Linked DNA regions of Homo sapiens. The protein of the gene in region 2 purifies or fractionates together with the protein of the main gene of each other region. This does not show direct contact. Each region holds a gene or a part of one and is shown on either strand. Other genes may lie near its edges.

Region 1 (3,718 bases), on a different chromosome or scaffold from region 2:
GTCAGTGGAAACTGCATTAAGTCAGATAAGATAAGCTGGCTTAGACTAGGGTGACAGTGGTGCAAATGGTATGTGGTCTGAGTCTGGATGTATTATGAAGGAAGAAGCAACGGGACTTTCTGATGAATTAAACATGAAATACGTAAGAGATTATATAGTGTGGGCATTTGTCCCCTCCAAATCTCATGTCGAAATGTGATCCCCAGTGTTGGAAGAAGTGGGGCCTAGTGGAAGGTATTTGGATCATGGGGGTGGATTCTTCATCAATGGCTTGGTGCCCTCCCTATGGTAATGAGCGCATGTGAGATCCCATTGTTAAAGAGACAGGAACCTCCCCCAACTTTCTCTGGCTCCCTCTCTTTCCTGCTCCCGCTTCACCCTCTGCCATGAGCTAAAGCCTCCTGAGGCCTCAATCTCAGGTATTCCTTTACGGTAATGCAAAGTGGACCAACACAAAAGAGTCAAACATAACAAGATTTTAGGCCAGAACAAACAGAACAAAGAATTTACCAATATAAGTGAACTAACTTGCTTTAGAATTTAAAAAGTATTATATACATAAAGTAGTTCATTTTTTACCAGAGGACAGGTATTCAATAGATTAAAATCTCATTCCATTCTATCATGACATAAGGTATTTCATGATTTTTTACCAGATTTTAATTCTGCAACACTCACTAGTCAGATATCACTTTGCAACACTGGAAGTTTTCAATCAGAAAAGGTTTTATTATAAGAAACAATGACATCAGGTAAAAATGCAAAAAATTGTGCAATTATGGCAAAATGTTTAAAAATATCTACACATTTGCCCCCACAGGACTACAGTACTTACTACATACCTGAGCACTGAACATTGAATTCCATTTTAAACTGCTTTACATAGGGAATCTGATTCCTTCATGATCACATCCATTTGTTCTCATGACCAATAAAATCAGCTTGATGCTTAAGCATCAACTTTGTAGAACAGAAAACAAAGATGGAAAATAAAGAATACAATTTCTACTTTCCTATAACATAGTTATACCCAGTCCAGTTTTCAATGTGTGACAAATATATAGGAAAGTGCTACATACATTCTTCAAATGCAAAAACAAAGTTAAAGTGGAACTGGCATTATGTTAGACCTACATTTTAATTCTGTAGTACCCATTGTGCCTTTTACTTAAGGTCTTACCACACTATGAAAATGCACCTTAAATATCTAAATATAAACCCACACATGTCACTAATCTTACTTTTCTAGGACCTCTTCTGAATCCATTTTAACAGTGGCAAAATATCCCAGCTATATAATTTAAACAAATAGTTCTTCATACAAAATTCAATATATATTCTACTCCCATAACAAATCCTAAGCCTTGCTTTTGACACACTTAACTTAGATCGTACCCTCCATACAAATTGTCATAGCCAAAAGATCAACTGTTGTGCAGGCTAAAAGAATAAATCTACTGTTGAATTAGCCACAGTATGTCATTCTCTTATATAACATACAGCCCATGTAAATTGCTAACTCAATGTTCTATGTCATGTTTTCAAGTAATACATTTTTCTAAATACACAAGATTGTCAAAAAGCGGCAGGAAATCTTATTCAACAAAGCTTTCAAAAATAAATTACATGAACATCTCTTGCAAAAAAATTGTTTTTTCTCTCTCCTCAGCAATGCAAAACTGTAAAGAATGATTTCTAAAATACACAGTAATAACTCCAAAACATCATGATGATAAAAACAAAAACAAAACAGAAGATAAAACTGGGGAGGTAAAAATGTTGACAAAGTTTATACAGAGATTACAGACATACTATCAACACCAATAAGAAGAAACCACATATCTAGCTAAGACTAGATTTTAAAATGTTAATTCTAGAAATGCTGTCCATTTTAACTTCTGCTTCAGAAAACATTCCCTACTTGTAGAGGTCTATGTAAAGCAGTTTGGAAAGTTTCTGAAAAACGAGGTATGTGATGCAAAGAGGCAATGTTTTCAATTTGTTTCACAGTATCACATTACAATTTGTGCAAGATTTTTAAAATACGAACCATGCCAGTTTGCTTTCAAGTGAATACAAATATTGTGATTGAGGGCAAAATCTGTCCTATGCTTATACCCTTTACGAATTACTCTAGGCTTAGTAAAACATGTTACTGATCCAAATGCCTGCCTTAGGTATACAAATAAGTTGGTTTATCCTTCATGTTAATATTCCTAACTGATGATTGTTAGAAATTTCATCAGTTAAATGCAAAAAATGCTTTAGTACCTAGAAAGCTATGGTTCTGTTCACTCACTCTTTTCCTTTTCAATCACCTTCAGCTAGAAGGAGGATTCCAACGTAAAAGTATTCATCACTGTTAAGTGCAAAAATGGAAAAAAAAAATGAGGTTTTAATTGTAATATGAAACTTAAAGACATTAAATTAGACCACTGCAGGAATTTTGTTTCTGGAAAGCAGAATTTTAAAAGTAGGTATAAAACTTCACATTATGCTCTGTGCAGAAGAGAAATAAGTTACCTTTCCTTGTACCAATAATGAATGGACAGGTAGATGGAAGAGAAGGTTGGGCTACAAATGGCCCATGTTAGTGCAAACTGGGTATAATGTTCCTACTATTCTAAGATTGAGTCCAGTTAGATGAATAACTGGCCATACCCTCCTATCACATAAGTAGAGAATCTTGTGAAATCACAAGAGTTCAACAGGTAAAGTACTATGGCCATGAAATCCACACCAATTTGAAAGATAGGCATAGGCTCAGACCATTTAAATCCATCTAGTTATACACATGAATTAAGTTAGACTAGCACCAGCCACCTGTGAATATGAGCACTTTTCCAGATTTTCACAAAAGAGACAGTGTTAGCACTTGAAAAAGTCATCGACAGAAAACTGCCACTTTAAAACTTTAGCTTAACTTAAAATTACATGGGAAATGGAAACAATCAGACTAAAAGCTCTTTCTGAGACTAATTTTTTCTTCGATCTACTCTAATAATAGAACACATTTAAATCTCAGTACACTTGAAAACAGTACACAAAAATAGATACATATAAATATTAAGAATGAGGATCTAAGTTAGTGCTTCTCTGTGTTAGAGAGGTCACAGCTAAAGTCCTAGTGATATTGCCTCAGATTGTTACCCGTATTTAAAATTAAAAGTCACATCAAACAAGTTTAGACGTCTTTACCCAATAATACCCTAAATGCTCTTATAAGAGTGCATAGTTGTCCTGATTCATCTGGTACCTCAGTTACTATTTATCACAAAATTATAAAATGAAATGATTAATTTTATGCCAGGAAAAAAAAATGCTGATAATTGCACTTTGTTATCTTTTCCTTACTGAAATGAAATGTCACAAGGATGAAGGAAAATCCCTCCCTACCCTGCAATCTTTAAGCATACCCATTTTCCATGTATAAAACTCTCTCAGCTTTCTGAAATACTGTCAGCACTCTTTTGTATCAAAGACAAGTTTCCTAAGAATGAGATGCCAGTGATGCACTAAGGCCTGCTACTCATTTAGAGTACTTTCTGAAGACACTGAGGATACAGTTTAGCAACAGCACATTCAAAATGCCGGCCAAGGTCCCAGAGCCGATCTGGGGTCTCATACACTTTCATCCACTGGTCAGCAATGTCATCATATTGGTAAAGGGAATTTTTTCTGCTGGTTCTGAAGACGTGTTCTTCAACAGTCACTTGAG
Region 2 (4,498 bases):
TGGGCGGATCACAAGGTGAAGAGATAGAGACCGTCCTGGCCAACATGGTGAAATGCCGTCTCTACTAAAAATACAAAAATTAGCTGGGCGTGGTGGCACGTGCCTGTAATCCCAGCTACTTGGGAGGCTGAGGCAGGAGAATTGCTTAAACCCGGGAGGCGGAGGTTGCAGTGAGCCAAGATCACACCACTGCACTCCAGCCTGGTAACAGAGCTAAGACTCCATCTCGAAAAAAAAAAAAAAAAAGAAAATGGTAGACACTTATACCACTTGGCATATGAATGCATGACAAGAGATTGACAGATTACTCTGAGCCTCATGGCTGGAGAGGTTAACTATCGTCTAGCTTATTCTTTACCCTCCCCTCCTCATAATATACATGCATACCATTAATTGTTCTTTTTTTTTTTTTTTTTTTTTAGAGACACAGTCTTGCTCTGTCACCCAGCCTGGAGTGCAGTGGCACAATCATGGCTCACTGCAGTCTTGACATCCTGGGCTCAAGTCATCCCCCTATCTCAGCCTCCTGAGTAGCTGGGATTACAGGCATGTGCCATCATGCTTGGTGGCTGTCTGCCGAGCTGGGATTAACTGCACACTTCATGTGCCAGCACCCCGGGCCCCCACCACACCATAGAGGGAATGGCCAATTGAGCTGCCCCAATATTAACTGGTTTCGGGGTTAGACTTCCTTGAAGTCCACTCATAAGCCACTCCTTGCACCCTCACCCCTGGTTAAAGAACTCTGGGTGTACTGAAGGCACTCCGAAAGCATAAATACCACTGAACAGCTGAATGAAACTAGGTATCAACACCCTGCCCCATGAGTATAAAAAAGATCATCAGTAAAGACAACCTGGGTGATTTCCTTTATGTTATTTACTTATTTATTTTTGAGACAGAGTTTTGCCCTTGTTGCCCAGGCTGGAGTGCAGTGGCGCGATCTCGGCTCACTGCAACCTCTGCCTCCTGGGTTCAAGTGATTCTCCTACCTCAGGCTCCTAAGTAGCTGGGATTACAGGCATCTACCATGCCCGGCTAATTTTTTGCATTTTTAGTAGAGATGGGGTTTCACCACGTTGGCCAGGCTGGTCTTGAACTCCTGACCTCAGGTGATCCACCTGCCTCGGCCTCCCAAAGTGCTAGGATTACAGGTGTGAGCCACCACGCCCTGCCAAAAACCTGGGTGATTTCCTAAAGAGGAGAATATCTCACACACCTCTTCCTGTGCTCCACTACGATGTTCATCCTCCCCATGCACCTGCCCCGCACCTACAGCCTGATATCTTCATCTTCTAGGAATTATCAGAACAGGCATGGGAAAGAGTGGGACAGGGAGAATGAAAAGCTCCAGACATGACCCAATTCCAGTTTTTTTTTTTTTTTTGAGATGGAGTTTCGCTCTTGTTGCCCAGGCTGGAGTGCAATGGCACGATCTCGGCTCACCGCAACCTCCGCCTCCCAGGTACAAGCGATTCTCCTGCCTCAGCCTCCCTAGTAGCTGGGATTACAGGCATGTGCCACCACGCCCAGCTAATTTTGTATTTTTAGTAGAGATGGGGTTTCTCCATGTTGGTCATGCTGGTCTCAAACTTCTGACCTCAGGTAATCCGCCCGCCTTGGCCTCTCAAAGTGCTGGGATTATAGATGTGAGCCCCCACGCCTGGCCCTGCTTTTTTTTTTTTTTAATTAATTTTTTTTTTTTGAGACAGAGCATTGCTCTGTTGCCCAGGCTGGAGTGCAGTGGTGCGATCTCTGCTCACTGCAACCTCCGCCTCGTGGGTTCAAGGGATTCTCCTGCCTCAGACTCCTGAGTAGCTGGGATTACAGGCACCTGCCACCACACCTGGCTAATTTTTGTATTTTTAGTAGAGACAGGGTTTCACCATGTTGGTCAGGCTGGTCTCGAGCTCCTGACCTGGTGATCCACCCACCTCAGCCTCCCAAAGTGCTGGGATTACAGGTGTGAGCCACCACGCCTGGCCACCCAATCCCAGTTCTGTACAGAGCCACCACAAGGCAATAATACTTCATCCAGCGCAAACAGCTCGGCTGGGATTCAGAATCCTTCTCCCTAGAATCTCCAGAGGATTACTGGCCTAACCTCTTGGCCACATCATCCAACCTGGACTCCATACTGGGAAATCTGCCAAGAACATCTCAACCTGGAGTCCAGAACATTCACTCCCAGCCCAGGCTGGCTCCAAAGACCCCAGGAAACCTTCATGTGCACACTAGTTTCATCTCTTGGCCAGTGACTTCCTACATAACTTTTTTTTTCTTTTCATTTTTTTTCTTGAGACAGGGTCTCATTCTGTCGCCCAGGCTGGAGTGCAATGGCGTGATCTCAGCTCACTGCAACGTTCATCTCCTGAGTTCAATGAGTTCAAGCGATTCTCCTGCCTCAGCTTTCTGAGTAGCTGGGATTACGGACGTGTGCCACCACGCCCAGGTAATTTTTTTTAGAAACCCCGTAGAGACAGGGTTTCTCCATGTTGGCCAGGCTGGTCTCAAACTCCTGACCTCAAATGATCCACCTGCCTCAGCCTCCCAAAGTGCTGGGATTACAGGCGTGAGCCACCGCGCCCAGCCCCTGCATAACCTTTGGAGATCCACAGGCCTCTCCTTTCAGTCACCGGATCCAGGCTCAGTCCAGAGACCCTTGATAAGCTCTCATTGTCCGGAGGCCATACCTCATGCAGAGTTAAGGACCTCCAACTTCCCCACAACACCCTTCCTACTCAGGCTGGCCTCGGGGGCCGTGGACCAACTCAGAGAGCAAGCTGGCTTAGCCTCTGCCAAACCTAGGCCTAAAGGTGGCCAGGAGGCTGCATTTCCAGCCTCTCAAAGGCAGAGGAAAGCCCCAAGGGCTAAAGCCCTCAACCCGCACTTCCCAATCATCAACGAGGTCCAGTCAAGCCCCCATACCCCAGATTTGCCTGGGCCGGGCCCAAGCCCAAGAAAGTAAAGTAAGAAAAACTATGGCACTCACCGGCCCAGACCCTGTTCCTCCTTCCCTTTCAGCCTCACATACACCCAGGACGGCTTAAGGCCGAGTGACCGTTAAAAGTGGGGAATGGAGCGAGGCCAGGGACGCAACGCTCCCGCACGTGGTCACCCCTGGATCCTGAGGCGGACGCTGATTGGCTGCAGCGCGGGCCGCATTCTCCCGCTCAGGCCAGCTGAGCACGCTGGGCAGCCTGGGAGGCACCTAGGACAGCGCCACTCCCGCGCGTCTGCCTCGGACCCGCAGCTGATTGGCTGTGAAGGGGCAGAGCCTTGAGTCTCATTGGTCCATAGGCTTCAGGCCTCTTAGGCTGAGATTTCATTGATTTCCAGCCGGGCCCCAGCGTTGATCTGCTGTGGAGTCTGCCTTTTCCCACTCTCTCCACGAAGAGACTGGACCCTGATTCTCCTTCACCTGAACAGCCCTGGAGGCTCCCTCAGCAAGTGCTCAGGAGTACTACTGTCCTTTTTTTTTTTTTTTTTTTTGAGACAGAGTCTCGCTCTGTCGCCCAGGCTGGAGTGCAGTGGCGCGATCTCTGCTCACTGCAAGCTCCGACTCCCGGGCTCACACCATTCTCCTGCCTTAGCCTCCCAAGTAGCTGGGACTACAGGCGCCCGCCATCACGCCCGGCTAATTTTTTGTACATTTAGTAGAGATGGGGTTTCACCATGTTAGCCAGGATGGTCTCGATCTCCTGACCTCGTGATCCACTCGCCTCGGCCTCCCAAAGTGCTGGGATTACAGGCGTGAGCCACCACGCCCGGCTTTTTAAAAAATTATTATTTCATTTTTATTTTATGAACGGGGTCTCCCTCTGTTGCCGGTGCTGGGGTGCAATGGTGCAATCATAGCTCACTGCAGCCTCGAACTCCTGGGCTCAAGCAATCCTTCCACCTGGGCCTCCCAAAATTCTGGAACTACAGCCGTGAGACACCGTGCCTGACCTGCCTTTCTTGCTTCTATTTTGCCACCCTAAGTAGCTCCCATTTGCAAACCCTGTCACCTTTCTCTCAACCCTTTACCATCTGTGAGGTGTGTAGGGGGTGTGTAGGCTGCCGCCACACCTGATTGGCTGGGAGGCCCGTAAGAGCAAGCCAAGGCCAGGCACGGTGGCTCATGCCCGTAATCCCAGGGCTTTGAGAGGTCCAGGTGGTAGTAGGATCGCTTGAGCCCAGGAGGTCGAGGCTGCAGTGAGCTATGATCACACCACTGCACTGCAGCCTGGGCGACACAGTGAGGCCCTGTCTCTAATAAATAAATAAAAATAAAATAAAAGAGCCAGCCAGGCAGGGCACGGTGGCTCACGCCTGAAAACCCAGCACTTTGGGAGGCCGAGGAGGGCGGATCACCTGGGGTCAGGAGTTCGAGATCAGCATGACCAACATGGTGAAACCCCGTCTCTACTAAAAATACAAAAATTAGCTGAGCGTGGTGGCGGGCGCCTGTAATTCCAGCTACTCGGCAGGCTGAGGCAGGGGAATCGCTTGAACC

Evidence for each region.
Region 1: the proteins of ZBTB32 (region 2) and KBTBD8 purify together in Homo sapiens (co-immunoprecipitation; one large-scale study listed by IntAct). This does not show direct contact.

Annotation. Positions count from the first base shown.
Region 1 is NC_000003.12:67,008,201-67,011,918, reverse strand, and holds the end of KBTBD8 (kelch repeat and BTB domain-containing protein 8), read right to left. Parts: coding exon 3,534-3,718; 3' UTR 709-3,533; downstream 1-708. UniProt on the Homo sapiens protein: Substrate-specific adapter of a BCR (BTB-CUL3-RBX1) E3 ubiquitin ligase complex that acts as a regulator of neural crest specification.
Region 2 is NC_000019.10:35,703,118-35,707,615, reverse strand, and holds the start of ZBTB32 (zinc finger and BTB domain-containing protein 32), read right to left. Parts: upstream 3,059-4,498; 5' UTR 2,993-3,058; intron 1-2,992. UniProt on the Homo sapiens protein: DNA-binding protein that binds to the to a 5'-TGTACAGTGT-3' core sequence. May function as a transcriptional transactivator and transcriptional repressor. Probably exerts its repressor effect by preventing GATA3 from binding to DNA.